2 separate regions of the Homo sapiens genome follow, and region 1 is linked to region 2. The links come from fine-mapping of genetic effects on gene expression. A gene starts in region 2. The other region holds a variant in brackets. All regions are shown on one strand. Distances are between the middles of the regions.

The links. PIP is the estimated chance that this variant, and not a neighbour inherited with it, causes the effect.
Region 1: its variant is fine-mapped to the expression of ADAMTS12 in adrenal gland (GTEx, PIP above 0.99).

Annotation. Positions count from the first base shown.
Region 1 is chr5:33,817,545-33,834,331 of GRCh38, forward strand. The region is part of intron 2 of ADAMTS12 (ADAM metallopeptidase with thrombospondin type 1 motif 12); the gene reads right to left. Among named protein-coding and RNA genes, the nearest start is that of ADAMTS12, 66 kb to the right of the region's middle. The variant G/A (reference allele first, on the strand shown) is at 7,441.
Region 2 is chr5:33,881,898-33,898,684 of GRCh38, forward strand. It overlaps ADAMTS12 (ADAM metallopeptidase with thrombospondin type 1 motif 12), which reads right to left and starts at 10,093. Exons shown (of 24, transcript NM_030955.4): 1 at 9,833-10,093. The coding sequence starts at 9,959. It also overlaps the pseudogene RNU6-923P. RefSeq lists enhancers at 9,375-9,876, 9,877-10,376.

The DNA of each region.
Region 1 (16,787 bases), 64 kb before region 2:
CTCACCCATTTTCAGCAATGATCAATTCTTGGACAATCTCATTTAATCTATACCCACCCACTTCCCCCAAACCACATCCTGGATTATTTTGTGGCAAATTCCAGACAGCAGATAATGTCATCAGAAAATATTTGAGTATGTATCTCCAAAAACACAGATTCTCTTTTAAAAAAAAATACAACTACAATGCTCTTTTCACGCCTAAAGAAATTAGCCATAATTCTTTAATTTATCAAATAGTCAGTCAGTATTCAGATGTCCCTGATCATCTCATTTTTTAAAATATGTGACTTTTTCTCCACCTTTCTCTTTTCCATTTAACATTATATCATGTAAATCTTTCCATAGTAGAATATAGAGATACTTAAAAGATCCTTTTCATATAAATAGAGCATTGAGGTTTTATCATGTGAAAAGAGAGCAAGGTATGGATTTATTTGTCTTTTTAAAAATAAATGTTACTGTGTACATTTGAGGTTTACAACATAGGATATATGTAGACAGCAAAATAAATCTGTGGTGAAGCAGTTTAACATATCTATCATCTCACATAGTTACTTTGTTGTGACAAGAGCAGGTAAAATCTACTTATTTTCTACAACAAAAATCCCTAATATTATATAATTTTATTAATTTTAGTACTCATGTTACATTAGATCTCTAAACTATTTTATATATATCTTATATATTTGCTGTTTTCATCCTTTGACCTACAGGTCCATATTTCCTCTCCCCCATCCCCCTGATGACCACTGTTTCATTCTCTGGGTATACAAGCTCTTTCTTAAAAATATGCCACATATAAGTGACATCATGCAATTATTTTTCTTTCTGTGTCTAGCTTAACTTAGCATAATGTCCTAATGGCAGGATCTCCTTCTTTTTTAAGACTGAATTGTATTCCATATATACACATTTCCTTTATCCATTTGTCTGTTTATAGATACTTAAGTTTTTTCCATATTGGCTATTGTGAGTAATGCTGTAATTCACATGAGTGTAGATCTATGTATGAGGTGGTGATTTCCTCTCTTTGGGGTATACTCAGAGGAGGGATTGCTGGGTCACATGTTAGTTCTATTTTTAATTTCTTTAGGAATCTCCATATTGTTTTCCATTGTTTTCCATAATGGCTGTACCAATCTACATTTCCACCAATGGTGTACTAGGGTACCCTTTGCTCCACACCCTCACCAACGTTGGTTATCTCTTGTCTTTTTGGTAATAGCCAAACTTACCAGTGTGAGGTGATATCTCATAGTGATTTTAATTTGCATTTCCTTGATGATTAGTGATGTTCAGTACTTTTTCATATAACTGTTAGTTATTTGTATGTCTTCTATTAAGAAATATCTATTCAAGTCCTTTTCTTATTTTTTAATCAAATTATTTTGTTTTCTGCTATTGAGTTGTAAGAATTTTTAAATAAATTTTAGATATTAACCTCTTATCAGTTATATAGTTTACAAATTTTTTTCCCAGTATGTAGGTTGCCTTTTCATTTTGTTGATTGTTTCCTTTGCTGTGCAAAGCTTTGTACTTTGATGTGGTCCTATTTATTTATTTTTGCTTTTGTAGCCTGAGCTTTTGGTGTGATATCCAAAAAAAGTCATTGCCAAGGCCAATGTTCAAGGAGCATTTTCCTTATGTTATCTTCCATGAGTTTTATGGTTTTAAGTTTTACATTTAGATCTTTTAACCATTTGAATTTTTTGTATGATGTAAAATCAAATTTCATTATTTTGTCAGTGGAAATCTAGTTTTCTCAGCATCATTTATTTAAGAGACTATTCTTTTTTCATTGTGTCCTCTTGATGCCCTTGTTAAAAATTAGTTGGTTAGGATTTATTTCTAGGCACTCTGATTTGTTCCATTGGTCTATGTTTCTGTTTTTATGCCAGTATCATACTGTTTTGATTACTGTAGCTTTGTACTATAATTTTAAATTTCGACATGTGATGCCTCCAACTTTGTTTATCTTTCTCGGTTTTGCTTTAGCTATTTGCAGTTTGTTTTTGTTTTTGTTTTTGTTTTTTGCATGGTTCTATACAAATTTTAGGATTCTTTTTCTAGTTCTGTGAAGAACACCATTGAAATTTTCATAGGAATTGTGTTAAGTCTGTGTATTACTTTGGGAAGCATGGACATTATAAACGATCCACTCAGAAGAATCTGAGATACCCAAACACTTCCTGTAGTAAGGACTAAGGAGCCATCTCATCTGGGGGCCATCAGTGATGGACTTCCTACCTCAACCTAGATGAGAAGGACAAAGAGGCAGTAAAAGGAAAGAGGCAGGAGACCAAGGAAAGAAGCAGCTCACAGTACCCATGGGGAGCTAAAAGTTGGCCATCTCGGAAGGGAAAAGGAATATTCTCCATCCTCTTGCTGCCATTTTGTATTTGTGATTATCTGGTAACAATTGGTTTCTTTTCTGCTGTTGAAGGACACATGCAAGCCCTTCTAGGTATTGTTGGGCATGGTGAGTGGCTGACATTTATTTAGGAGTCTCTGGAACTGGCTAACTGTGGCCTTGGAAAAATCACTTTATTTCTCCAGGTTTCAGCTGTGCCACCTGTAAATAGGGACTGGGTTATATAATTTCAAATGTTCCTTCAAATTCTAGCACTGTTTAGATGTTTTCAATCAAAAATTGAAATCACAGAATTATTTGGGAGCAATCAAAGTAAAATACTAGGATTTTGCTCTTTGCAGGGGGAATTTTATCTTTGAAATGAAGAGCAACAGATTTAAATTAAACATAAAGCAAACTGCCAACAATAATCAAGTTGTTATCATGTTGGAATATGTTAAAAGCACCACCTGCATTATTTGCTTTTAAGTATGCTTTTGCATTTCCTATCCTGGACCTCTTAGAAGAACTTTATACAGATCTTTTAACATATGTTTATTAGACTATGAGTGGCATTTGCACAACATCTAAAGACAACTGATAAACAGTTTATTGGTAGAGGAGATAATAAACTGTTCTGTAGCCAGTAGAACTGAAGTCGGTTTTGACTGAGAGAAGAAATTTCTGTTTGATTATGGAGTTGGGTTTTTTAATTACTAAACTATATATTGCTATAGCTTAATATATAAAAAAAAATTTGGAAAATATAGATCAGGAGAATAATCTCATGCGATCCTATTCACAATAACAAAGACATAGACAACCTAAATGCCCATCAATGATAGACTAGATAAGAAAATGTGGTGCATATGCACCATAGAATATTATGCAGCATGAAAAAGAACAAGATCATGTCCTTTGCAAGGACATGGATGGAGCTGGAGGCTGTTATCCTTAGCAAAGTAATGCATGAACAGAAAACCAAATACGGCATGTTCTCACCTATGAGTGGGAGCTAAATGATGAAAACACATGGACACATAGAGGAAAACAACATACACTGCGGCCTTTCAGAGGGTGGAGTGTGAGAGGAGGGAGAGGATCAGGAAAAATAACTAATGGGTACTACCCTTAATACCTGGGTCGTGAAATAATTTGTACAACAAACCTTCATGACACAAGTCTACCTGTGTAACAAACCTGCACTTGTACCACAGAACCTAAAAGTTAAAATAATAACAATCATCATCATCATCTCACATGATCATAACACCAGTAATGACCATTAATGACATTCTTATAGTTTTACTACATTTATATCTATAATCATTATAATGTAAAATTTTGAGTCATATCATGTATTGCTTTTCATATTTAGCAATCTTATGAATTCCTTTATTTACTTTCAAATAATCTTCCCAAGTACTGGGAGTGACTGCATAATTTTCCACTGTATGAAGATACGCCAATTGTTGGGCATTTCTCTATTTTTTGGCATTTAGTTTGTTTCCAATTTATGTATTTCGTTATTATAGCCAATACTGTTGTAATCATCCCAGTCACTGATTTATAGTGGATATACTGGAAATAAAATCCTAGAAATGAAATTATAATGTTTTAGGTCATACAAATTTTTATTTTGATCTGCATTAAGAAATTGCCCTCTGAACACTCTTGTCACGATCTTTTCCAACCAGCAGTACGTGACTGAGGCATCTCCCCACTCTCTAAGTACTCGTTGTTAGCTTTAACATAATTGAAATATATAAGGCAACACATTTTACTTACAATTTTAAATTTAAAAAAATCATTCCTGTTGCTTAGCTACTCCAAGTCACATTTTTATCAAATACATGAAGCTACTTCCCTTCTCTAGCTGTGAACTTGCTATACAGATGTTAATTACCCAACATCACCCTTTCAATCCTCTTAATGAAAGGTTTTCAGTATAATAATGTTTCTCTGCCAACCAAGTCACTGATTACTACATTCCAGCTCTTCATTTAGAACTGATGAATTTTAGATTTCCTGAAACTGTCTACCTTCTGTCTAGACTAAAATAGTAAAACTTACTCTTCCACGTGTTTAATCAAGATTTAGGCATCTTCAAGTCACATTCTGTTTTGTTTTTACAAATGTCCTCTATAATATTGTTTATGAAAAATAACTACTATATTTTTCCCTCACTCCTGGTCTCCTCTCTATCCTTGGAATCTACAACTTATCACCATGGAATATTCCATGTTCCACAATTGAGAGATCCTATTTCTCCCTTCCATGCTGGGGAAATGCCTTAAATCCTGATTTCTTTTATTTTAATGCCTTGAAAATGAAAAGCCACATGATGCTCCATTTGGTCTCTAACACTGAGTAGAAAATTCACTTCTGAAAGCTCTCTAAGTGGCCAACCTCACCCTGGGGACGTATAATTGCCCACTTGGACACAGAGCATGCAAGCACAGCCCTGGGAGGAAGACTTTAGTTCTGGCTTTAGTTCTGTGATCTCATTCACTTTTTATTGGGCCTCAGTTTCCTCATCTGCAAATGAGGAAATTGGGTTATATTTTCTATAAGACCTCTTTAATCTCCATGGTGTTCTCCAAAAGTTCCTTAATTACCAATAAAAAGTGAACTTATAGACATCAAGTGTTTTTCAACTTATCACCTGCAAATGGCTGGTGGGTTGCAGCAAAATTTAAAAGAATCCTCAAATCCATGTGCACATATATATTTTCTTGGTCCACAAATTAAAAGATACTATGATTATTACTATTATCATGCAGGAGATCTGCAAAATTAATTGGTATTTAAAAGGAGTACTCTTCTTACTAAAAAATTTAAATAAAAAATAAAATCATGATTCTAAAGAAAAATAAAAAACATCATTGCACAGCTCAAGAAAAATATAGGCCGGGAATGGTGGCTCACGCCTGTAATCCCAGCACTTTGGGGGGCCAAGGTGGGAGGATTGCTTGAGGCCAGGAGTTCAAGATCAGCCTGGCAACTTGGCAAGACTCCAACTCTACAAATAGAAGAATTAAAAAATTAGCCAGATGTGATGGTGCACACCATAGTCCCAGCTACTTGGGAGGCTGAGGTGGGAGGATCCTTGGAGCCCGGCAGCTTGAGGCTGCAGTGAGCTATGATCACACCACTTCACTCCAACCTGGGTGACAGAGGAAGACCCCATTTCTAAAAAAAAAAAAAAAAGAAAGAAAAAGAAAAGAAATACAAAAAATACAAAGCCCTCCTTTGGACTGCCCATAATATTGACTGCATTATCTATTCTGATACTTAATTATACACAACTGAGAGCTTTTCTCCCTGGGTGGCAAGCTCAATTGCCTTCAGGGCCAAACTGGTAACATGAATGAGTGAAGCACACTGGCTGTTATTCTTTCAAAATTGGCACATGCTTTATACTTAGAAGCAGGAATGATCTTCACTTTCACAACGAATTATGCCTTCTCCCGTCTTTGTCACACATTTAACACCCTAGGCATATCTTTTGTTATCCTCTCTTTTTTATGTAGTTATTCACAAGAGAAACAACATCCTTCAACCACTAGCAAACAAGGTACAAATATAATGATCAATGGTGACTACCACATGTTGGTCTTAGTGTCAGAAAAAAAGAGAGGTAGTGGTGGGAGCTACAGTGAGTAGACGGGACTCACCCTGTAGGGAGGGGAGACTCAGCCCCCAGTGACTCTGGCCCAGCTGGCATAAAAGCCTATTGCTATAACATTTTCTGCCTTTTTTTTTTTTAAGAAGAAGAAACTTCACATGTTTAGGTGGAAACTCCTGATATTTACCTGTCAGTTTTGGCTTATTTTCAATATTATGGAATCCAAATAAAATATGTTGTATGTCTTCGTTAATCCGTTTCAGAATGACCCTTGAGATTCCTTCAATGAGAAAAAATTATCTGATTGAGACAGGGGTCTCGTTTTTAGAATAAAAAATAGGGTGAATTGGGGCAGAGAAGGAAGAGTGTGAAGAAAAATAATTGATGAATATGTTGGTTAATTGGACTGTGGTGATCATTATGCTATGCATACATGTATCAAATCATGTTATACACCTTGAATATATACAATTTTTACTGGTCAGTTATATACCCCAATAAAGCTTGTTGAAAAAGAAAAAAGTTTTAAATTGTTAAAGAGTCCCAAGCATATCATGGTCATGAGCCAACTCACTCACTGAGGAAAACCTCTTTCTTCTCAATAATAATAGATCATAACAAGCACTAAGATATCCTAAGAACTAAATCCCAGATACTGGGCTAGGGCTTTATATGGTTAATTTTACTTCACCTCAAGGTCACACAGCTTGAGCCTGACCCAGGACTCAACCCTAGACTTCTATGCTACCTTCCCGTGAAGCCACCTGCCAGAAGACGGGAACAGAAAGGGGGGACTTACGGGTTTGCAGCAGCCCCAGTGAAGAGCTGTGGGCCTCGAATGCCCTTGAAGGTAGGTTCCCTTCTATATTAAAAGATCATTTGGTCAGTTCATTTTTAGAAGAGGACATTGCCCCCAGGTTTACATTTTTGTAGGCTTCAATGGAGCAAGTTAGTCCATATAAAAATAAAAAACAAATGAGCAATCATAACATAATCATACCTAAAGAATAGATTCCTCCACTCTAAGTCACTGTCTTCATCCAGACCAGGAGTGTAAAGCAAAAAAGAGAGGGCTGTGCTGGTTGCCTGAGAAGAGGAGCCTGTCAGCTGTGCTAATGAGTGGCTGTCTAGGGGCAGGCCATCAGTTCAGGAGTACAAGTGAGGAAGAAAGGCTCGTGACAGTGTTGCAGCAGAGACTGCCTCAGTGTTCACCTTCCCATTTCCTCTTTCTGGTCACACAAGAAAACTTCCCAGCATCCCTTGCTCTGTAAAGTTACACAGTTAAGGCTAGGATGATACTTCCCAATCTGGCCCCTAAAATCTCCTAGAAGACTCTCAGCTCATACTTTGATAGCTTTTCAGCAGAATGGGAAGTGAGGGACTCTAACACTGCAAAAGCCACATGATGAAGGAGTTTGGATTCCTGAGCTACCACTGGAAGGAGAGTTATTTCTTGGAG[G/A]GGAGCCATCCCACTAGAGATGCTGACCCAGACTGTGCTATCGTGTGAATGAGAAATAAAATTTGATATTAGCCACTAAGATTTGGCAGCTGTGTGTTAAAAGTAGCTAGCAAGCACATCCTAATAGAGTTCCCGGGAAAACTACAGCGGTTTCACCCATGCTTATGCAAAGATCCAGTTTGCAAAATCATTTCTGCTCTGCAAAGAGCTTACTATTAAGAAGGTCTCTTTGTGGAGGTGGCTCCACAAAGCATGCTGAAAATCCCTTATATGTATGAAGAGTCAAGTCATCTACTGAAATTCCAGACAAATCTTCCTGACCATATCCAAGAACACAGAGTACGTGCAAGTTTCCAGGATTCTGGTGATATCAATGAATGTGCTGTGGGCTCAAACTTTTTAGAGAGGAAAACTGAGCTGGATATATCATGTCATTAGATGAGAGATTTAGTCAGTGGCCAAAGCTGGATGAGTGTAAGTAAGAGCTGCATGAATGTTGCAGAAACTCTGGCAAAGAGGAAAATTTGTACATTCAGGATTTGTGTTGCAGATGCTACACAAACCCAAAAGGAACTAAAGGGCAAAAAGCATATGAGTCTCTTAACTAATTGCATAAAACTATTTGATCAAGGTAGTGCTTTAAAATTTTATGTGATCAGAATTGTTTTTGTTTTTGCAAAGAAAGATCAGGTAATTTCCAGTGATAATTCTAAAATGTATGGTTTTTGCTTTGCAAATCGATAGAGGAAGAAGCAATAATCCATTATACAAAAACTCTCTGGAAGTGGGAGAGAAAGTAAGACCAAACGGCAAGCAATTCTTTCCAAATGAGTTTTGGTTCAACTCCTCCGTGGAGACCTTGCTAGCAGTATTCTTGTCATGTGGTTCCTCAGTTATGTAACCAGAAGAGAGTATCTCCAAACTAGAATCAAGTTTGGTCTAGATGCTGTGGCTGCACCAGCTCACCTCTGCAAATTGAATTTAGAAAACTCCACACTGGAACAGATCTCTACCTTGCCATAGTTGAACAGGCGGTACACATCATTTGACTTCGTTATGTGAACTGCAGTTAGGAGGTGTTAAAAAAAGAAGTCCTCTTAAAAACAGGGAAGATGAAACTACATCACCTCTATACTCCTAGATGATTTGTTGGTGAGAAGAGTTAGGGACATTTCTAAGGGAAGTCAAGAAATAAATTGTTTTCTCTACTTCTCTTTGAAAATTTTATATTCAATTTATGCATCTTGATGTGGTCTACAATAGTGTGCTTAGCAAAGAACTTTTCTTCCTCAGCTATGGAACTTAAACTTATAAAAATGATAGTCTGCTCAGTGAGGGCAAATGATTAGCTGCCCACCTAACTCACCCATTAAAAAAAATGTTAATAAAAAATAGTAATATTAATACTAGCAAATTTGGAAAAGTGTATATGCAAAGGTTTAAGTATTGGTAATTCAATTTGCATATACATATGTATGCATACATGTATGTATGAATGTATGAATATATGTATGAACTCATGTATATGCATGAATATATATATGCTTTTAAGTCTGTTTGAAAACAGAAATATGTTTATGTATGTGTATGTGTGTGTGTGTGTATATATATATATATATATAATTTTGAGTTTAATTCTTTGAAAACATAGAAATATTCTTGATGAAAATGTGTACCACTGCCCATTATTGGCTATTTAACAAATAACCTAAATTAATAATGAAGCTAAACTAATAGCAATTTATAATGAAAAACAAGTACCAAATAAACAATAAGCACTAAAACAAGTATCAAATAAAAATAAACAGTTAAGTACTACCTTGATGGTAAACTTCTGTCCCCAAACTGCAGAACTGCAGCCATCTATGTGTTTGGATGGTAGTGAGACCTCAGCTACATTGCCAGGCATTACGGGGAGAATGGGCTTCTTAGTAAAATACCAAATTGGAGTCTATAATAAGCTTTAGTCATGTACTGACTTTATGAATACTAAAATTTAATGACCCTTAATAAGTCACGTAATTGTTTCCTATTAAATAGCTCTCAGTTCATCCACAAAAATTAATGTCTATGGAATGATGTGTCTCATTCACCGCATAAAGACCTGGTCCCTTTCTCAGCCCATTAGGGGTCTGCTCAAGGCTGACAGATGGGCTTGGGGAAGCACTTTCAGAATTGACCCTGAAAGAAAGCAGAGTTTTCTCCAGCTGGGCAGAGGGACACAAGTCGGTGATGGGAAACAGAAGAGGATCTGATGTGTCACCACTGGGTTGAAGATGAAGGAGGGTCACATAGCAAGAAATGCAGTTAGTCTCTAAAAGTCGATGGTGTCACTGGTTTATCACTCAAAGAAACAGGGGCTTCAGTCCTACAGCTGCAAAGAACTGAGCTTAGAAACGGACTTCTCCCCACAGTCTCTAGAGAACTCAGCCCGTTAATACCTTCATTTCAGTCTGTGCTGCCCTAAGCCAAGAACCCAGTCATGCTGTGCCAGATTTCTGGCCTACGGAATTGTAAGCTAATAAACAGGTATTGTTCCAAACTTTCTAAGTTTGTGGTAGCTTATTATGCAGCAATAGAAAGCTATTACCTCAGCAAATTTCCTTTATCCCCACTTCCCTGTCTTACTCACCCATTAAAAAAACATGTTAATAAAAAAATAGTAACCACTCTGTTGTGCTTTGACATGTATCCTCGCATTTGGATATGTCCTTGGAGAAAACAAAATAGATAGATAGATAGATAGATAGATAGATAGATAGATAGATAGATAGATAGAATGTTTTTGTTTGCTAATGTAGTTTATTTTATATCAATAGTATTGTGTCATAAATACTATGCTATTTATTATCTTATAAAAAAACTCAAATATACCTTGTTACCATCTATCCATTTGCTGTGGGCATATCTAGTGGGTTCCTTCTAACTGCTACAAAATATTCCATAGTGTGTATTTGCTGTTTTTCTTTATGCATTTTACTAAGTTGACCTTCAGTTCCTTTACCAAAATCAGCACTGTGATCATTTCCTCATAATCCTATCTAAGAATTCCTCCAGGGCATATACCCAGGAATGGGATGGTTGGGTCACAGGACATATGACCACTTAATTTGGAATGCACTCTCAGACTTCTGTCTCAAATGGTCACACCAGGCTACTCCCCTGGCAGTGCAAGAGGTCCTGTTTTCTATATCTGCCAAGATTTGACATTACCAACTTCTGAGACTTTGTCAATCTCCCAGGTATAAAGTAACATCAAGTGCTTTTAATTTGTATTTTTCTGAATCACTGAGTTCGAGTATCACTTCATATATTTATTAAGCAATTCAGTTTCCCCTTTTGTAAACTGCCTTCTCATGTGCTTTTGTCAATTTTTCTACCAGATCTCCCATCTTCTTATTTATTTCCAGAATGTCCTCTATCTTTTAGACACCAAACTCTTCAGGTATCTCTTACTGTTATATCTTTCTGTTAACTCAGAAATGCTTAATTTTATATAATCATATTTCTCAATGTTTTGCTATATAATCTGTGTTTTATTTGGATCTTTATTAAGAAATATGTTCCTACCACTAAGTCACTAAAATATTATCCTACATTTTCTTTTGTTGGCTTCACACTTTTACCTTTCACGTTTCAGTCCTTAATCCACCTAGGGTCCATATTTGTATGAGACCCTCTAGTTTTATTTTTCTCCATATTATAAGCCAGTTTTTCTAACACCATCTGCTCAACAATCCACCCTAGGCAGAGGTAAGATGAGAAATATGTATGTGGTTGGGAAGCCAACATGATCCCACTGTACTGTGGCAGAGGGTATGATGCAGTGACTCAGGATCTTGTTGGTGGAGAAGGGGTAAAGGGAGGGCTCTGTCGCAGTAGATTCTGCCCTGAACATCCTCTTTCGCCCCTGTGTTGCAGTTACTAATCCTTGATTTATCTTTTCCTATTGAAAACTGGAATCCCTCTCCACTTGGGATGGGGAGTGGGAGGGAAAGGGTCATGCTGCTATTTGCCTTGTCAGCCCTGGTAACACTAGCAACGGGCATACACACCATACTGCTCTGAATGAGATCCACTCCAGCACATGGCCATCTTAAAACCTCTTTCATCACGTAATTGATACAGTTCAATGAGACAAACAGATGGCACCTTTCGTCAGGCTACTTGCATGCCAATAATGGGAAAAGAACCCATTCAGAGACTCATACTCATGAGCTGTGCTCCTCCCCAAGCTGGCGTTCCTGAATGTAACATGAAGGAAGATGCTCAGGCTGCTGCAGGACTTGGCCTTAGAGACGGGGCATCCTAACCTGCCTTACTAGCAAAGCTTCATCCAGATATGACCTTTCACTGCATACTCTATTTTTTCCCTGTGTGCTTGGATTTAATTCTTAATAGTACTTTGAGTTGCTGTTTTATTATTGCATACTTTAAACTCACTACTCTTCTTTCCATCCTTCTTCTCTTCTCACCAGCCAGGACCTTCCCTCCCCACCTTTCCAAAGCAGCACACAGCTAGCTGCCTGCTATGACTTCAACTTCAAATTCAGCCTGGAAGTTAAGAAATGATTTCCCAAGAACTGCATAGAAGGAGGATCTGACCATTGGCCTTTGTGCTGCCCCCTGCCTTCTTCAACCCCCTTGGGTCTTAATAATTAATTCCTCCTGAGGCATGTTGTTCCATGGGCCTCTCTGTTCCCCTGAACTCATTCCCTGGAAACAATTCCCCTACACATCTAAGAGCAGATTTCACTTAACTAAGCAGCTGTGGTCGGAAAGTACAAATTCTCCTTTAAAAATGGCCCTTTCCAGTCCCACTCTAATGTTGACCAGCTTTCCTCAATTCCCAAAGAATTCACCCGCTTCATACTGAGAAATCCATCTGGCCCCAGTCCTTTTCCATCTGAGGCAATCAGCCTCAGTGACATTCAGAGAGCCCTTTCCATAACTCTCTTGGTCTAGCCCATACCTACCTCTAACTCAATAAAATGTTAGAACCCTGAGCCCTAACATATGAAGAAAGGGAGGCCAGACAGCCCAAACTGGAAGACAGGTCAGTGGCTTTGATATAAATCAAAGCTAGGATCTCAAATTTGAAATGAGGTAGACATTTCTAGCTATGCTGTGGGCATGAGGCTCTGATGGATTAAAGAAGAAATGATGGGACAACTTTGGAGAAATAAAGGATCCATGAAGTTGGAAGACCTCAGTTAAATGGTCCAATAAGGGCTCTGGAGAGCCATTGTACCACCCAGATCCCTTCAGAAGATAGAGGGAAGAGGTGATATGAGGAGAAAAATGGCAAAAAGGAGGTAAGACAACTGGAATATAAACTTGATCGATATCACAATTTGATATAAGACTAGCTCAATTACATGATTAGAAGTATATTCACAAGAGAAGATAGTCAGAAAATGGTCAGCCTACCAAGAAAGCAGCCAATTGATATAAAACACAGAAGTGTCTGGGGACGAGAGGTCCTAACAACTTTAAAGCCACTTGCTAAAGAATTCTGTCTTGGCCGGGCATAGTGACTCACGCCTGTAATCCCAGCACTTTGGGAGTCCAAGGCTGGAGGATCGCTTGAGCTCAGGAGTTCAAGAGCAGCCTGGGCAACTTATCAAGACACTGTCTCTATTAAAAATTGAAAAAAAATTAGCCAAGAGTGGTGGCGCACACCTGTAGTCTCAGCTACTTGGGAGGCTGAGATGGGAGTGCTGTTTGAGCCCAGGAGGTCAAGGCTGCAGTGAGCCATGATTACACCACCGCACTCCAGCCTAGGCAACACAGCAAAACTCTGTCTGTATATATATAGCTTTCATTTATATTGCTTCCACTTATATCAGTATATGTATATACTGATATAGACAGTGTCTTACTGGATATATACATAAGTTAAACATATATATTAATTTTAAAAAGAATTCTTTCTTATTTTCAGTTTCTGCAAAAGAAGCCCATACTAAAACAGTAGCATGATTTGATGCTTTTGGTTCCTGATTTAATTCCATTTTCAAAATGATCTCCTTCATGGCTATGCTACAAACAGACTCTTAATTTATGGAGAACACACACAAAAACACACACACATAGCTCCATATGATACACCAGAAGAATGGTTAAAACAATTGAAATAACAATAGGCAAAAACAATAGAGAATATTTACTATGTAAGGCATATTTACTATGACATTCTTTTAAGCATGCTACAGATATTAACTCATTGAAGCCACATCCTATGAACTGCTACAATTTATATCCCTTATTAAAGATGAGGTCAGTGAGGCATATAGAGATTGAATATCTTGTCCGAGATTATACAATGGAAAGATGACAGAACTAGAATTCCAGTCCATGCATTCTGCTTCCAGACTCCACCACTAAAACCACTCTACTATACTGTCTCTTAAAGGATGGTGAGTTACCTGCCTAGCAAAAATAAACAATGATCTTAAGTGTTGCTATCCTGTGAAAGTTTCTGCACAAATTAGCCCAAATAGTAGTCTGGCTTCTGAAGGCAAATATTTTGCTTGACTTACTGCATTTTGAGAACTAATAGCAGGTGCGTTGTAGGTTCCAACTGAAGAGTCCTGCTTCCATCTTCCAGCTGGTCCTCCTTCTAGATGATTCATTACTCCCCAAATCACATGATTGTAACAAGCTTAATCCACATTCACTGTGCTGCTTAATTACCAATAGAATAATAGCTGAAATTAAGCAGACTGCTTAATCACCTTCTTTTTATTCTGGCTGCTTTTTTATGATTATTATCCCTCCTGCCTTCACAGGTAACAAAATATATTGCCATGATAAATGACCAGCTCTCCAAGATGAAAGCTCCAGGTGGCAGAGACAGTCATGAAAGCCCTGCTCTATGGCCGAGGCCACTGCAGAAGCTAGAAGTGGGGAGGTCCTCTCAAGGACTCCTGACGCCTAGAAAGCATTCTGCCAGGAATGACAAAACAAACAGTTACAATTAGGAGACAGGATTCACAGGGTCCCTGCAAGGTAGCTGGTACCAAGCACAGCCCCTTCTCTTCTGAAGAATGCAGTGATTTCTGCAGCTTTCAGGTTCACACTTCAAGTGATCACCAAGACTGTCGTTCATGAACCATTGCTGAAACTATCTGATAGATTCACACGAAAAGGTGTGAACAGTATCTGCAGTTTGATTTCCAAAGAAAAACCTGGGATTGTATGGGAGGATATATAAGTTGGTGATTGAAATAATTAGATAGGAAGGGGGTCTTTTATTCATTCCCAAGTTGTGCCCCTGACTCCTTGTGTGAGATTCATCGAAGTCCACAAGCTTACTATGCTTCAGTTTCCTCATTTGTACTGTATGAACAGGTTCTACCTATTTGCTTTGCAATGAGAACAACCCAATAAATAACTGAACATTTTGTGAGGAAAAAAAAACCCTTTGGATATGGGCACAGTACATCTACTTAAAGTCACTATATGAAAACTGAAAATAATCATTGTAATTGGAATAGTCTCAAGCACAAAATTGAATTCCCTCTTCTTGTACTCAGATTTAAATCGAGTTCCATTCAACAAATGTGCAAGTAAATGTGTTAGACATTAAAGACTCAGCAAAACGTGTACAATTTCTACCATCTGGCAATGCGCATGCTCAGAGAGAGAATTTCCACCAGGCACTAGCGGGGTGGTGGTGTTTTCCCTTGATGCGGCTTGGTTTGGGGACAATAATGCAATGTTGCTTTATTTGAAAGGATGGTTACAAAGAGCTGGATTTCCCCTTCTTTAACTATAACCCATACTTTGCTTCCATTTATATCAGTATAAATATAAGGTCCATTCCCTCGGACTCTCACATATGCACTAAAGACAGCCGTGGGAGGTAGAAACCAGACTGAACAATTGGCCTGAAATCAAATGGCCTGAAATCAAAAAGTGAAGGGGAAAAAAGCCACTTGCTTATTCCTCTATCTTTAACTTTTTAAATTCAGTCAATATCATCTCTCTTGTTCACATAGATTCCAGGGAAGCTTTTGTTTCTCTCTAGTCATTGATCTTCCAGAAGTACAATAGCTATAAATAAGTCACCATGAAATAAAAGCAAAACTTGTGAGTCACTGCTGCCATTTTTTCCTAAGAACACATGGGAATTAGTGTGAGATGATGATCATGAATAACTATGGTGATGATGTGAAGGCAGAGGGAAGAAATAAAATTTCTGTTCAAAGAAACCATGTTCCAGTAAGTTCCAAGTACACCTCCAACTGCATAACAGTATTTGCTTTTTTAGTTTGTATGTACCCATTGGCCTCATTGGACTTAAGCTCAAGGGACCAAGCTCTGACAAGCATTTCTGTATCTGTGACTGGGAAGCCACACAGCAAGGAAACACGAGGTCATAATCATTGCAACATGAATTCTCACAGCTGCCTCTTCAGGGGAGCTCAGGGACTTTGTCATTTATATCAGCTCTCTTTTCTTTTCAGAGACAAAGAGTGGTTCACTTTCACCTTTCAAGGACCAGTCCTAAGTCTTTACATCTCTTCAAAAACCTCCCTAGAACAAGTTAGCTAAAATATCTCAAACTGTATAATTCACACATAAAAGGTACATTTGACTGTATCTGTTAGAAATTAAGTACCTTACAATGGAGAGTAGATTCAACCAAGGAAGAAAAAAAGTTTTCTCTACAATGCTCTACACCTGCAAACTCTCTCTCAAAAACCGTCCAAGCTTTTGTGAATGGTTAAACTGATGATGGCACAGCCATTCAATGAAATCTTCTGTAGCTAGAAAAATTAATTCACAAAAAAATTCATGACTCGGGAAATGATTACAATAAAATATTAAATAAAAAACAGGATTCAAAGCTAAATACATAAAATGATGTAAATTATTAACTACATGCATAGGAAAAAATGGGGCTACATTAGTTTGCTAGCACTGTCATAGGAAGGTACCACAGAGTGGCTTAATCAACAAAAATTTATTTTCTCACAGTTTTGGAGGCTGGAAATCCAAGATCAAAGTGTAGGCAAGGTTAGTTCCTTTGGAGGGCTTCTGAGGAAGAATCTGTTCCAGCCCTGCTTGGTGGCTTTAGATGGCTGTCTTGTCCCTCTGTCTCAAATCATAATCCCTCTGTATGTTTCTATGTCCAAATTTTCTCTTGTTATAAGGACAGCAGTCATATTGGATTAAGGTCTGATTTTAAGTTAGTTACCCCTTTAAAGACCCTATCTTCATATATGGTTCTATTCTGAGGTACTGGAGGTTAGGACTTCAACATGAATTTTTGGGGGAATCACAATACAGTCCATAACAGGGGCCCAATATACAAGAGTGTTTTAGTGGTGGGATGTGGG
Region 2 (16,787 bases):
CACTGTTGACTTGAAGTTTAGAGATCCTTTCCATCACACAAATACTGTTAACATTAAACTCCCAGAACAACTCAAATTTACCTAGTGCTTCCTCCTCAGTGACATGATATCAGGTGTTTTACCAGAGACACATTAAGATGGGAATTAATCCGTGAGGGGTACTGTTAGAAAAGGGGCAAGATCTGAATGAGGAACAGGAATCTTTCAAGTCTAGAGTTCAGAAAGACAAATCACAGAGCTTCACTGTGGATTATAAGGTGCTTCAACACATCAAGAACTTCCTGATAAAGTCAGATTAGAGGGAAAAAAAACACAAAATCATGGAGAACTCATCATATGCACGCTGACAAACCTCATACCAATTACAGCATAAGAGTGTTCCATAATGCAGCAAAGAGTGCATAAAAGAAGCTGGGTTTTAAAAAAGTGTTTACCAAATTAATATGATAAGGAGATATGTCAGGATCTGAGGCATTGGCTCAAAACATAAAAACTGCCACTTTAAAAATGCAAGACTGGAACCCTTGATCCTTCCCCACACAAGAACACATACACATTTTGACCTACTCAAATTTGCCTCCCTACCACTACCTCCTTATTTTGATGTTTGAGAATAACAAAGGATCTACCTAGGAGGGAATTTATCATCACTCTGGATTACACTTCTTCTTTTTTTGTTGTTTTGTTTTGTTTTGTTTTGTATTGTTTTTTGAGACAGATTTTTGCACTTGTTGCCCAGGCTGGAGTGCAATGGCATGATCTCGACTCACCGCAACCTCCGCCTTCCAGGTTCAGGTGATTCTCCTACCTCAGCCTCCTAAGTAGCTGGGATTACAGGTGTGCACCACCATGCCCGGCTAATTTTGTATTTTTCGTAGAGATGGGGTTTCTCCATGTTGGTCAGGCTGGTCTTGAACTCCTGACCTCAGGTGATCCACCCACCTTGGCCTCCCAAAACTATTAACCATTTAGTAAGATAAACTAATATTTTGAAACAAACAAACAAAAAACCTTCTACTTATCACCTCTCAGTTGTAGTTTTGCACTTTGGATCTTGCTTTTACTTTGCTCGTGTAACTTCCCCAACTAGAATGTCTTTTGCATTCTATCAAAATCCTGTTTAAGCATTCAAATCTCAACTCAAATCCTTCCTCTTTATTCTCCTAGTGTCCCTGGCTAAACTTCTCTCTCCTTTCCCTGAACCCTCATGCCCTTACTTTCTGTACCTCCTAGAATGGCTTTATTTTATATTGCCTTTTATTATATGATTTATCCCCAAATCTGCCAGAATCTTGCACATCACAGGTGCTCAGTTCTTATATGTTGATGTATCAGTAAACACTATTGCAGCTGGTTAATTAAAATAACTGGGCTTGATGGGCTACAATTATAAAAGAGTTTTTTTGTTTGTTTGTTTGGTTTTTTTTTTGTTTTTTTTTTTTTTGTTTTTTTTTTTTCCAGGCAACTACCTCCAAACCCTTTGTGGAATCATTCTTCTCTGCCTTGGATGAAATATGGGGCAGAATACAGAGTTTTCACTCTCAGGTACTAACAAATGGTCTCCATTTTTAGGTGTAAAAAGCCCGGACCCATTACTTCCTACTGCAGCAGCTAGGCACAGCAGACCACATGGCAACATGGGCAAATCTTCACAGCAACACTCCACGAAAAACAAGAAATAAAATAAGCTAATGCAGAGCTACTTACATTCATGGAAAATACACACACACTAAAACAATAATACAAAGTTTTCCAGAACACACTGGAACAAGAAATACATATGGAACCCATTAAAATGGTTTTCCATGGGGAAGAATTGGAGTAGGGAGTGGGAACAAAAATGCATAAATATATATAACAAAAAAAGCTTTTTCGCAAATTCATGATACTAGTGTGCCATGAACTGAGGTGTATAACTGACTCAGTCCTCTCTCCTGTCCACTCACTCCCTAAGAAATGTCTGCTCCAATCTGTATTGGAGGACCTTCCAGGTCTAGACCTACCAAAGAGAGAAACTGTGGGTGGGTGAGGCGGATGCAGTCAGCTTCCATAGTATTTCCCTCTGGCTGCTCTTCTCCTCTGCTACTCACAGTGATGCCTCTGGCTCCTCCAGGGCTCGAACAGTGAAGGGAGTTGGGTCAGAAAATATCTTATTCAGCTGGGTATAGTAACGGTGTCATCTAGCAATGGTGCCCTGTATGTAGTCAGTGTCCACATGCTGACTGGCGCCTTCTATTAAGAGAAGCTCTGTGTCCACTGGGAAACCTCTGCTCCCTTCAGGTCCCTCAATGTGGACAATTCCTCCTCCAGCTGGCTGCCCACTGCCTTCCTATCTTCTACCCCTTTACTGAAACCACGTCACCCCTGCAGGGCATCCTCTTTGGCATCTTTTCAAGATGATCCACATCTTGTTGCCTTCCATGAGGTCTAAATCTGGCTCAAAAGAAGCAACCATGATCGCTGACATCCCCTTCACTCCCATCCCACGTCATGAAAATCAGGCCACTCCTGGCCGTGCTTTTGGTCAGCTCTGTCACCAAATGTCATTCCAGGCAGTCTTTTGCCTATCAGTATTTTAAGGCTAAAATGCTAGTGCCCATGCTCCCCAAGCCCATAGCAAACCCTCAAGATCTCTAGCTGTCCCTTCACTTGCCTTGAGTTGGGGCACAGTAGGGGGGATGAATGCCCTGGCACTCTCATCTGTCCTGAAGGAATTCTCTCTCTGAAATCTCTCCACTGGCCTTTAAGCCTCTCCTCACGTGCATACTAGGAGAGTGAAGGAATCAGAATCACACCATCACCCTGCAAGTCCCACACATATGGTCTGAAATTTCTCTTTAAGTGTATGTGGAAAATTAATCTTTTCTTTCTTCTCAGACTTAAGGTCTTGGCAGAAACTGAGACAAAAGAAAGAGTCCCATTTGAATACCCTGTTATACATGCAAGTTTCTGCATCTCCATCAAAACAGAAAAATAAGCATCTTTTCTAGCAGATTATTTTTTCCAAAAGCCAGACTGACTGATTTAAAGGGAGCACGAACGAAAAGCAATCACATTTTAAAACATGAATTCTGAATAAAATGTTATACTCTTCCAAGTCAAATGAGCTATAACCTATTGAAAAACTCTGAAAAGAGTTGAAAATATCTTATTTGTTATACTTAGAAAACAACTATAATAAAATTTAGGTTGTCATGAAACAGAAACCAACAAGTGTGATTCTAAATCAATCTTACATTATTAAAAAGTTACTCTAAATTTTTGTGTGAGATGATATATCAAAATAATTGTGGTAATTTTTCAGAAATATGGAAACAATAGGATATAATAAAGGGGCAATAAATGTATAATTGCATCTCTACTATAATTGCAATTGTGAGATATATTAATATATATGCATATGAACAAAGCCTTTGAAATAATGGGTAAGAGTACATATTTTTATGATGATGAGATTTGGGGTGTGGTTTTTCCTTTTAAAATTTGTAGTTCCTCCGGGAGGCCGAGTTTACGGTGAGCCGAGATCGTGCCACTGCACTCCAGCCTGGGCAACAGAGTAAGACTCCGTCTCAAAATAAAAAATAAAAAATAATAAAAAAAAATTGTAGTTCCTGTGTTGCTTTTCCCAATTAAAAATAAATAGGTAAGAAGGATTGAATGGGAGAGTGCTGTGCTGGCTTATGACAGAACTATAGAGAATATCCAGTAGACAAGATAAGTAAGGCATGCCAGTGCCCCATGATACAAGGCAGTCTGACAATGATCACTCCCGATGCCCTGCTCACTGTGCCCATTACAGCTGGCTGCATCCTGAGGGAAGAATTCACCTTGGAAGAGGCATCCCTTGACTGAGACTGCTGGAGATGGGGAGGGGGCAGCTAGAGTAGAGCTCGAGGTCTTCTCAGGCAATAGGAAAGCAAAATGAGTTTGGAGTGACAGATCAACAGGAGTGTTAGCAGGAGGCAAGGATGTGAGAAAAAGCAGGCCAGGGTGGAGGCAGCCTTAAATGGCAGGCTTGGTATTCTGCCATCCAGGCCATCCAGCAGAGAAGCAATAGTCCCAGATCTGAGTTAGAAGAACTGCAACGGGAAGAGTGTGGCGGAAGCAAACTTAATCTAGGAGTTATCTCAATTTATCCAGAAAATAACAATTTTTCTCATAAATTTTCTGACTTAAAATATCCCTTATAGAAACTGCCTCTGAAGATACATCTCACAGATTTAAACATGATTTTTGAAAGTATAAAGTGAAAGACTAAAGTTTGCCTATGCCCTAGCACCTATTGCCCAATAAATAAAAGAGCAAACAAATTTATAAATTTTGACCCAGTTGCTTTTGATCTAATGAATTTTTAAGAGAGCCAATTTAAGTTGGCTGTAGAATAATATGATAATAATTATAGTAAGTGTTTCATGAGCACTTGCTATGAGCCAGCTACCATAAGTCTTTCCTCCTTCAATACTCACAACAACCCTGTGATAGAGATTCAGTTGTTATCCCCATTTCATAGATAAGGAAACCGAATGTAGGAAGTCACTATGCCACGTTATATAACATTCCTTGGATTGAAACGCTGTGCCTCCTATTTCAAAACCATGCTCTAGCCACCACACTTCATTAGTAAATAAAGAAAAGCAGCTGCTCTTGGCAAAGAGTATAGCAGGGTTAGAGGTGATAACACTGCTCCCAGGGACGGTGATCTGACCAGACAAGAAGTGCTTCACCTCTTTACACCTCAATTTGCTTAGCAATCAATGGACTTAGTAATTGCCTCTTTGTTGGGCAAAGTGATGAGGGATAAGATCGGTTTTCCCTCCTGATCTAATTGCATAGGAGGCAGCTAAGCCATGGCAGCCCATAGGTGTGGATGGAAATCGGGGGTCACTTACAAAGTGTGGTTTGTGTTGGTGACCCAAGCTCAGCTACCTCAACTATACAATGGGCATAATAATAATAGCATCTACCTCCTAGGCTGGGAGTGAGGCTCCAATGTATTAATATATTTAATAGATTTAAAATTGTGCTTGACAAATAACATTCATTAGCTAAACATTAGCATTGTTGGTTTTAAAGGTAGGAACTTGGCTACCCGGGATCACTGTGGACATAAACATGTGTAACCTCCAAGCAGAGACAGGAGAGAAGCCCACACTCACCATAGCCTCCTCTCCGCAAGCTAAGATTAGTTTGGCAGATTTGTTAGCTATAATCTTGGCCAATGAAAGCAGAACTCAGAGGAGATATGACAGCGATGGAGAAATAGGTGTCAAGAAATAATAATAGCTCCTAATTTTTATCATTTCTATGGTCAAGTACTACATTAAGAGTATGCCGGCTTGGTCTTATCTAATCCTCACAGTTCTCTGAGTAAGCATTATTAACTGTATCCCTCATCTGGGACTATACTTCCATCTCCGTAAAGTGACAACAGTGAGGGATGAGGATTTTTTCCTGGGCAATCGGATCCCAGAGCACACACTCCTAAGCTCTGCCCTCACTGTGTGCATCTCCAGGGTCTGTCACCTAGCACAGATGTCAAGGCGGGTTGTCAATAAGGTGTGGGGTTGGGAGGGCCAGAGGCTGAGATACATGAAAATTACATCACAGTTTATACAAGGGTTTGTAGAAATATTATAAGCTCCAAATACTTTGATTTGCCTTGTTTAAAATTATATTTAAGGCCTCAGTCCACAAGTTTCAATGGTACTTCATGAGAAATTCAAGTAAAGGCTACTGGCACAAGCACTTTTGAAAACACAAAACAAGGCATCTTTTTCCCTCAGCTTAGAAAGGACAGAGGTAAGAGAATATTTACCTACTAGTTGTATACAGTTTAGGCTCAGTCTATAGTAGTTATTCTTTTTTTTTTTTTGAGACAGAGTCCTGCTCTGTTGCCCAGGCTGGCATGATCTTGGCGGCCCACTGCAACCTCTGCCTCCAGGGTTAAAGAGATTTTCCTGCCTCAGCCTCCTCAGTAGTTGGGACTACAGGCATGCACCACCACGCCCGGCTGATTTTTGTATTTTTAGTAGAGATGGGGTTTCACTGTGTTGGCCACGCTGGTCTCGAATTCCTGACCTCAGGTTATCCACGCACCTCGGCCTCCCAAAGTGCTGGGATTACAGGCATGAGCCACCACGCCGGCCTATTCTTTTTTCTTTTTAATGGAACGCTTCACAGATTTGCATGTCATCCTTGAGCAGGGGCCACGCTAATCTTCTCTGTATCGGTCCAATATTAGTATATGTGCTTCCAAAGCGAGCATTATCTGTACTTATTCTTTATATTTATTTCTATCTTAGAGACAATTGAATTTCTCAGATCCCTTTCTAAAAAACAAGATTATGAAATTCCTGTAATAGAGGTTTATTTTCATAATTATCTTCCATGTAAGATAACTGTAACCTTGCAACGCTATTTTTATTATAGAAATTTACACATGTTGGAATGTTGTGAAGAACTGTGTTGGGCTCCTCAAAATTGTAAAGTATGCCACAGAAGGTTGGATTTGCTCATAAACTTTATGATAACTAATGTGCTAACTGTATAGATTATTATAATCAACACAAAATATCAAATCTGTGAACTCTCTTTTTACATTAAGAAAATAGCTGAAATCCTTTCCTCCTTGCAGAATTTTTTTAATAGAATACATAAATAATTAAAACTCTTATCTGAAAACACTGCAACATTCCCTCTGTTTCTTGCACAAGCCTGGAGTTCATCTCTAATATGGAATAAAGTGACTGTCCTGTTGATTTCACAGAGATGTCAGGAGCAAAAGAGGTCATGGAACAGACTGGCGCTTTGTAAACAGCATAGGGGTAAACAAACCTAAGGGGATATGATTGGCTGTAGAAGACACGCAGCATGTTGTGTGCAAGATTAATATTTCCCGTTGTTCTGATACTTGGTTGTGAACCAAGAAATCCTGTGTAAGTCACAGCACATTCCTATATCACAACTGAGCAATGTGGAAAGAATACTGGGCAGTTAGTCAAATAGCCTGTTTCTATGTTTCTAGTCCCAGAAAGGACTGGATTTATCTCCATACTCCTTCCAACGACTAAAATCCTGACTTAGCCCAACTCTTAGAACTAGAAGGAACCTAAAAGGTAATGTAGTGTCTGAATCTGTCTCCAAATGTGGAACCCTGTGCAATTCCCTTTACCCTCCTCGTGAAGGGGCATTTATTAGGTGCTCAATCATATATGTTGACTAACTGATGCCCTAGACCTCCCATTCCTTATCCATAAAAGTAAAAATGGGGGCGAGGCATGATGGCTCATTCCTGTAATCGCAGCATTTGGGGAGGCTGAAGTGGGAGAATTGCTTAAGGCCAGGAGTTCAAGATCAGTCTGGACAACATAGCTAGACCTCATCTCTATTAAAAAAAAAATTAAATATTTCAAAAATAAGAATGGGTGAGATGATCCTGAAGTAATTTGCAAGTTTAAACGTTCAGGATTTGAATGCATTCAAAAATGCTATCAAAGTGGAAATGGAAGTCTAAGGAGATTGGTTATTTGTGAGGCTGTAGGTAGGTCATTTGGAGGGAAAAACCCAGGCCATCCTAATCCCAGATAGCCTTAGAATTTCATTCTCTACTGGTTTGCCCTCATCCATCCCTTCCTCCCTCTTTGTGACTTTCCTTCTTAATTCTAAATGTAAGTCTGCTTAGAAATTTCTCCTTTGCACCAAATGTGGATTATTTGTAAATCCACTAGGGAATTGATTGTGGTTGGTGAAATGCTTTTAAAAACTGAAATTATTGGCTGGGTACAGTAGTTCACACCTGTAATCCCAGCACTTTAAGAGGCCAAGGTGGGCAGATCACCTGAGGTCAGGAGTTGGAGACAGCCTGGCCAACATGGTGAAACCTCGTCTGTACTAAAAATACAAAAATTAGCCGGGCATGGTGGCACACGTCTGTAATCCCAGGTACTTGGTTGGCTGAGGCAGGAGAATCACTTGAACCCGGGAGGCAGAGGTTGCAGTGAGCTGAGATTGCACCACCGCACTCCAGCCTGAGAGACAGAGCAAGACTCAGCCTCGAAAAACAAAAACCTCTAATTATTTTTAAACCTAAATAAATATATATATCACCAATAAGCTTGGAGCACTTTATAGGTTTTTTGAACAGTGGATACTCTCAGCACATAGCTCTAGATAGAGGTGACTAGGGAAAATAATCATATCTCACTTTCCAGAGAGCAAAAACCATGGCCCCGTGGTGTCTGCTTCACACCAAGCTGAATTCCCTTACAAAGAAGATGTGGAGCAGAGCTGAAAACCAACCCAGGAGAATGTGTGTCTTTGAACGAAATCATCTCCAAATGCCCTGGGAAGTGCTTGCAGGCTTTGTTTGTGCTGCCCCAGAAGGGAGACTTTTCACAAAGGAACTGTTTTTCAAAGAACAACAAGCCCTGCTATTTTAAACTTGGGGGTGGGAGATTGTATCTGGACCGTTTACACAAGTGAGTGCTGGCTGACTGACATCTAACCCCAGTGTTTGCTGGCTCCAGCTTTCCAAGTAAAGCAAAGAGAGGGACTTGCTTCTGATACGTCTTGAAGCCACAGCAGATGAGTTGTCCAGCAATATTTGAATTTTACAACATGAGCAGAAAACCCTGCTTAGAAATCCTAAACAAGGACAGGCTGGTGATGTTTATCACCCGAGTGGCCTTGGGAATTAAAGGGATGTCAGAAAGTCATGGAGGACACTTCCCGAGGCTTCAGCACAGTCAGCAAACACAGGACTTAGTGCATGCTAACCCAGTGCTCTGTGTGCGTGTGCATGCGTGTGGGTGCATATGCGTGTGTGTGTGCGTGTGTGTCCCTATTATTGCTACAGGACAGTGCTGCATGATTCTAAGAGTCAGACTACCTGAGCTGAAAACTCTGCTCTACATTAGCTGGCCTCATAAGCTCTCCAAGCTGCAGCATCCTCATCTGTACAGCAGGGACAGCAACACTGGTACCTGCACCCTGGAAGGCTATTGCCAGTGATCGGATGGGCTGACACAGAGTGCCACGCGGGCCATTGCTGCTGCTAGGACTGTTTACCCCCAGAGGTACAATGAACCCCCCACCAAACATGAAGGTGCCTCTGACCCTTCCAAGTCCAATAAACTGCTGACTGTTAGGCTTAAAAGAATAAAACAACAACAACAAATTGTCCACCAGAACGCTTCCAATGCTTCCTACAATAACATGAGTTCAGAAATTCATAAAGAGAAGCAGCCAGCTGTGGTCAGTGAGACAGGACAGGAAAAAGTGAGCCCTTATGGAGGTATAGTTCCCCCAAAAGGACTATTCTTTCAAAAATACAACCCTAAATCTTTCCAGGAAACCAAAACACAGCCAAGCCTGCTCAGTAGGGGGGAAGAATCACATTTCCCCTTTCCTGACCAGAGGTTTAAAACTAACTAGAAACACTGCAATGACGGCCAGTAGCCAGTTAGCACTTAAAAAAAAAATTTTCCATGTTTAGAGTCTGAAAAATAGGGGATCAAAACAGTACAGCATTCAAAGAGGAGACAAAAGAGAAAAAGTTACCAGCTACCTCTTGGGTCTTTCAAAGACTGCAGTGTCATCCCTGTAAAAGAGTGAGGTACTCACCTTTCTATAAGAATGAAGGACTCATCACCTTAAGCACTGAATTCTGAGAAAGCCTAGGCTCCTGAGGTCCCAGCCCAGATTTCCTTACAACGCAGCCAAATGGCTTTTCAGAGTTCAGTTCTGCCGGGTGGGGGAAGGGAAAGGGGAGCAACAAAATTCCCGCAAGTCTTACCACCACTGTTTTAAAAAGAAATAAAGAAGAGTCACTAACCTTGCCTCCTGTCCGGGAAGCGAACCGGGCCTGGCTGAGGCTGTCTCCCATAGCAAAGCGCCCCAAAGTTAAGGAGCTGAGCCACCACGGAAAGGTTTGCAAGCCAGCTCCTCTGGGCACATGGCATGATTCAGATGTTGAGGAGAAGAAAAGTCAAAAAAGTTTTAGCCCTCAGCTCCAGAAATAAAGCGCTCGCCTGTGGCCCAGCAGGAAGATGCAGGGGTGCATGGTCAGGCGCGAGAAGGCAGCGACTGCAAAGCTGCCCGCGATCTCCCTGTGCTTTTTTAAGCAGAAAGGAGCTAGACACCTTTTTCCCCTCCCTCCTCCTAAAAGGGGAGTGATTCAGCTGACAGTGTCCGCTTTCGGCGGGGTGTGGAATGGGCCAGAGCGGGAGGGCGCAGCCCACCCCGGTCCCCACCCCTCCGCCTCCCGCATGCCCCGCGGCCTCGCAGCCCGCCCGCTCGGTGCATCTTCCTCCCGGACTCCCACCCCCGCGCTCCTCCGGCCCCGCCCCGAACGCCAGGCCCAGCTGGCCGAGCCGGCCAAATAGGGGAGACCCGGGAGAGCCGCCCTGGGAGGCACTGGAGGAAGCTGCGAGTGAGAGGCCCCCAGGCCAGCCCCCCGGCGTGCTTAAATACAAGCTCAAAATGAGGAGAACAGAGTTGAGGCAGAGGGGGGCCCCACTCCCTCCATCCTTCCGCGCTCAGCGCTGCCCCCTCCCCTGCTGTTCTCCTCCAAGTTCCTGAACTTTTCCCAACATCGCTCTATCAAGACTCCTCACCCACTCGGACCGCTCTGGGATTCTCTTCCACTGGAAAAACTAATAGGCGATTTTTCTCTTTGCCAAGTCACACAAAGGGAAATGGGCTGCGCTAATCTGCTAATGTGACCTCAGACAAGCCCCCTCAGCTGTGCAATGAGGTGACTGCTGCAAATGCCTGTGGGCCCCTCTGAGTCTGCAGATCTCTGTGCGGCTCTTCTGATTCTAGAACCCCATCTTTCCTAGCCCACCTCCATTCACTCAAAAGGAAACCAGGAATTAAGTCAACCCAGGAAGGTGTTAAGGTATCTCCCCAGTTTCCCTGAACTGGCTACCCTGGAGAGGGCGTCCATTCATTCAGAGGCTCAAGCTTTTACATCGGTCAGAGAATGCCACAATCCAGGACGCTTGCCAGGCATCTTGAGAATTTACTGGGCTAATCCAGCCAAGATTTTTCACCTCTGAGCTGAAACAGGCCTCCTTACTCCATTCAGGAAGAATTCGGCCCCCAATATTGACTTTTCCCTGGCTGCCAGCCAACCACATGTGTTAATCAAGAGTTCTGGGATACCAGCTTACTCAACCTTGTATAGGGACAGAGCCTCCAAGGCAAACTCAGTGGTCTGAAAGCAAGGTGGTCCTCTCAGATGTGGAACACATGGGCACCAAGACTTTGAGAGGTATATGCTAGTTTCCTATTTTTGGTGTTACAAGTTACCATAAATTCAGTGGCTTGAAACAACTCAAATTTCTTATGTGACAGTTCTGATCTGAAACTGGTCTCACTGGGCTAAAATCAAGGAGTTAGCACAGCTGCATTCATTTCTGAAGACTCTAGGGGAGAATCTGTTGTCTTGCCTTTTCCAACTTCTAGAGGCTGCCTGAATTCCTCAGCTCATGGCCCTCTTCCCCCATCAAAGCTAGCAATGGCCCTTTGAGTCTTTCTCACATCACATCACTCTTCTTCCTCCCTTTTCCACTTATAAGGACCCTTGCGATTACATTAGACTCATCCTGGTTAACCAGGACACTCTCCTAATCAGCTGATTAGCAACCTTAATTCCATCTGCAACCTTAAATCCCCTTTACGTGTAACAGAACATGTTTTGTTGTCACAAGCAAGTAAAAGAACTACTCTGAGCCTTTTTTCTGTTACGTAAACATTAGGAAGCAGGATCACAACTGGAGTTAAAAGACATTCAGATAACACAGGCATGATGACCTGCATTTGCAAGGGCATTGAAGAACAACTTTGGGCTAGAATTCTTTTTGCTTCTTTTCTTTTCTTCCTCTTCCCCTTCTTCTTTGCTTCCCTTCACCCTTTCCTTGTTTCTCTCTCCTCCTTGTACTCTTCTGTCACTCTTCTTCTTCCACCTTTTTTTCTCCTGCTGCTCCTTTTAATAGCAAGCAAGATCTTGTCCAAAGGGCAAGATCACTCCTAGCTCCCAGGTCCTGGAGAAGAGATTTGTCTCTCAGGCAGAAACCTGAAGAACTCTGGAGAACTGCTGAGTTCCACCAATATCAGGGATGATACACTGAACACTCTGGCTTCACAGTTTAGCCTCTTCAACTCTAATGGCATTTCCCTTATTCTTTCTCCCATCTACTCTCAAGACCATAACCAGGAATATCTATTATCCATAAGTCAACCAAGACTGAAATATTAAAATTATAAAATCCCACCAACACTTTGTATTCTGCCAGCCCTTCCAAACCTTTATACCCAGTACCTCGGATCTTCAGCCTAGTAGGAACTTCTAGTTCCTTGATCTCCCCATCTTTGGTTTTCTAATAATCAGCATCTCTCTGGACTCACCACCTTTTTTGCCCAGTCATACCCTTTGATCCACCTCCTTAAACCAGTACATTCAACATCTCATATCTTCCTCATCAAAATCTAACTCTGTTTTACCCTAGCTGCTGATTTTCTCTGCTCTCTGTTTCCAAGTGCTGTTGAAAAAACTCACATAATTGCATCTAATTGTGCAACTATCAATTCATGTCTCCAACTTTAGCACGTTCTCAACATGACTTAGCACAAATATACATTCTGCTACTATTCTAACGTTCCTCCTACTCTTTCCAGAATTTACAAAAATCTCTCCAAAGCTTGGAGTTACCTCAGCGTAGAGAGACTTAATCCTCCTCAACTTTGCTTCTGCTTAATGAGAAAAGGTAACAAATCCCCTTGGTGACCAAGGTTGGTAGCAATAAAAAAGCCAACTACCTCTCCTGCCCACTGTAGATAGCAGAACTGTGAATCACTGCATAGTATCCAAACTACCTCTGAGCTTATACAAACATGCTGCCCTTGAGGAAACACTACAAAACCATGCAAGATTCCAGAGTTGAATGATAGCTAAGAATAGCAAGCATTTATTACATGCTGACTATATGCTTGGCTCTGTGCTAAAGACTATATGGGTATTGCTTTACTTAAACTTCATAAAAAACTTATTATGTGGGTACCATTAGTATCTTCATTTTATAGATGAGGAAACAGACACTGAAAGGTTAAGTAACTTGCCTAGGATTAAGTGGCTGTGAAAGTAAAATCAGGATGAAGCACTAAAGTTCAGAGAAGTTAAAAGATGTAGCAAAACCACTAAGTCAATTCAAATATAGGTCTGTTTTACTTCAGGCCCCTAGTAATGTCCTCATCCACAAAGAGTGAAGAGGATTAGAACACTGACATATAGACATCATCAGAATGCCTTGGGTGGTAGTTTAGTTCATTATAGTATTTTTCCATGTAAAAATGCAATTTGTGACCCAAGATCTAAGATACCTCACAAAGAGCTCCCTCTGTTTCATTAGCAAATAAGGCATAAAAAATGTTCATACTTTCCTAATAAACCGTTAGGATCACAAGGGATGGCTGAAGTTCAAGGAAAATTAGCTTAATGCATCTTTCGGAGCTGTCATTAGCATTGGAAAGACAAAAAATAAATTGACAGTGGCCCAAAAAACCCTGAGTTGGACCTAAGAATCACAAATGAATATGCCACAAAAAGAGACTTTACATCTGTTAATTCTGCCTAAACACCACAATCATCATCTCACAGCAATAATCATTGTGTTGAACATTACAGTTTTTAAGGTGTTTCTCCCAAGCAGGTCAAAGGGTAGAAGGGAGAAAAATCTTCATCTGACGTTTTCAAGAGTAGTTAGACCTTAATTCCACCTGAAACTCAAAAAGTAGTGACTTCAAACATCATATTTAAATACTGTTGCCACATGTATTATTTTCTTTTAAATCTTTCTGCAACCAGATCTCACAAGAATTCTCTCAAGTTACTGAGACCACGAAAGTCTCTTTTTTTTAACTCCACTTCCAACTTTGCTGTAAGTTTGAGATTGCTTCTAAATTTTATTAAACTATCAAATGTCTTAGTCTGTTCTCATTCTTTATAACAATTGAAAGCTTGGTAGAGATGCTGTAGAATTTTTTGGAAATTAGGGAGGCCTATAATGACACATTTATCTATTATATTCTGGAACTTAGCCAACTAAATGCCAATGTATGGTAGTTTTTGGTGCAACTGGGCAAAAGTGTCCAAGCTGATAGCTGTGGCTCTTACCATTATCATACTGGTGTTATATTGGTCCTGAACCACATGGACACTATCCCTTTTCTTTCATTCAACCTTAAAGATTAAATCTGAGTTGAAGAATAGCGTGCCCATTTTTTCCCATAGACAGGAAGAAATTAAGGATGAAATGTATCAGGGACAATTTCAGTACTACCCATTTAGCAAAAAGAAAATACTCTATTTATTCAACAAATATTATTGACTGTCTACTATGTCTAGGCACTGGGAATGGAGCAGTGAATAAAATAGAGTCTCTTTTCTCATACATGCATGCATACACTCTAGTGTGAGCTTGTGGGAGGTAGAAAATAAGCAAGTAAATATAGAATATGTGCTACAGTGATAAATGCAATGGATAACAATAAGCAGGCTAAGGAGAACAGGGAGTGATTGAGGGGGGTAGGTTACAATTTTATATGAGGGGGTCAAGAGTGGTCTCTCTAATAAGATGATATTAGCAGCAACCTGAAGCAAGTAAGAACCTGAGCAAAATAGATATCTAGGAGAAGAATATTCCAGGCTGAGAAAACAGTAATAGAAAAGACCTTCCATTGGGAATATGTAGAAACATGCTTAGAGAGCCCAAGAAAAGCAAGGAGTTTGGCATGGCTGGAGTGTGTGGACAAGAGTAGAATGATGGTAGAAGTGGGGAGGTTGTGTATGTTCTTAGAGACCATAGTGAGAACTCTGAAACCCTGAGGAAGTTAAGAAGCACTGGGGATTCTGAATAGAGGAGTGACAAGAACTGACTTAGGAGTTAAAAGGATCTCTTTGGGTGCTGGGTTGAGAATGACTGCAGAGAGATAAACGCAGATGCACAGAGAGCAGTTAGGAGGTTGTTGGATTAACCCAAGTAAGAGGAAATGGTGGATTAGATCAAGTGGTAGCAAAAGACAGGGAGAATTAATCAGATTCTGGATTTATTCTGAAGGTAGACCCAACAGGATTTTCTGATTATTTGGATGTGTGGCACGAGGGAAAGCAAGAAATCACACATGACTAAAAGGTTTAGCATTGCCAGTAATTAAGATGGGGAAGATGGGAGGTTTGAGACATGTTTAGATGTCTCTTAGATATCCAAATGGAAATGTCAAGTAGATTGTTGGATATACGAGACTGAGTTTCACATAGAAGTCCAGGTTGGAAGTATCCATTTGGAAGTCATAGTAGTTACATGGATGAGAGTACCTGTGAGTGAATTCAGTAGACAAGAAAGTAGACATGGGGACTAAACTCTGAGGTACTGCAATATTTAGAATTACAGGAAATAAAGAGAAATCACTAAAGACCAAGGAGTGAGCAATGAGGCAAGAGGAGACCCAAGACAGCATATTATCTTTGAAATCAAGTGAGAAAGGAGCCGTTATTCAATAGCTCAAACTGGAGTAAGAGCTGGAAAGGAGTCCTGGCTCTTCATACTAAGCTGCATGGAAGACAAAAATGGAAGAGTGACACCAAAGACTGAGTCTGATCAGTTAAGAAAAATAACTCCACATACCAATAAATGCAGTGTGATCGACGTCCTTGAAATCTGTCCAGATTAGAAATTCCCTCATGGAGAGTGTTGTCAGGAAGAGATGAGTGTACCAAGGAACATCCACAGTCCTAGTTTACCCCATTCTTTATGTTCTCTTAACTCACTGAGTTCAACCAGAAGCCTAAGAGAGCCTGGAGTGTGCCTCTCCTACTCAGAGCGGGAGACCAGCTGAGGGTCAGGGAGTTCTACTGTGATCTGAGAGGGCCACTGCCTCTATTTTTCACTGCTCTTTGGTATCCTCCTGGGATCACCGAGAGGAAGACATCAGCTGTGCCCTCAAGAAAGTTTGAAGTGAGTAAATGAGATTAGTTCAGGTAGCAGTAACAATATACAGTCATGTGTCACTTAATGGAGATGCTCTATGTAAAATGTGTCTGTAAGTTATTTTCATCATTGACAATGATGAAGTCACCTAACAACTTATAGAAACCTAGATGGTATAGTCTACTGCACACCTGGGATACATGATATGAACTATGACTCTTAGTCTACAAACCTATATAGCATGTTACTGTACTGAATACTGTAAGCAATTGTAACACAATGGGAAGTATTTGTGTATCTGAACATATCTAAATATAGAAAAAGTACAGTTAAAATACAGTATAAAAGATAGAATGTGGCACACCATTATAGAGCAACTCCATTATAATCTAAGGAGACCAGTCATATATGCAGTCCATTGTTGACCAAGTTGTCGTTATCAGTGAATAACTGTATCATACTGGTACCCACTCTTTTTTTTCAGCTTCATTGAGGTATAATTTAACATAGGATAAGCCGAACATATTTAAAGTGCACACTTTTATAAATATTGAGATGAATATACCTGTTAAATAATCATCACAATAAATTTTGACATATATGTACCAGAAACTTTCTCCTGCCCCTTTGTAATCCCATTCTCCCATGTCTCACCAACCACAGATAGCCACTGTTCTGTTGTCTGTTACTGTAGATGGGTTTTCATTTTCTACAATTTTATGTAGAGTCTACAGTATGCACTCACTTTTGTCTGCCTTCTTTAACTTGGCATACTCACTTGAGATCTGTGGATATTGTGTG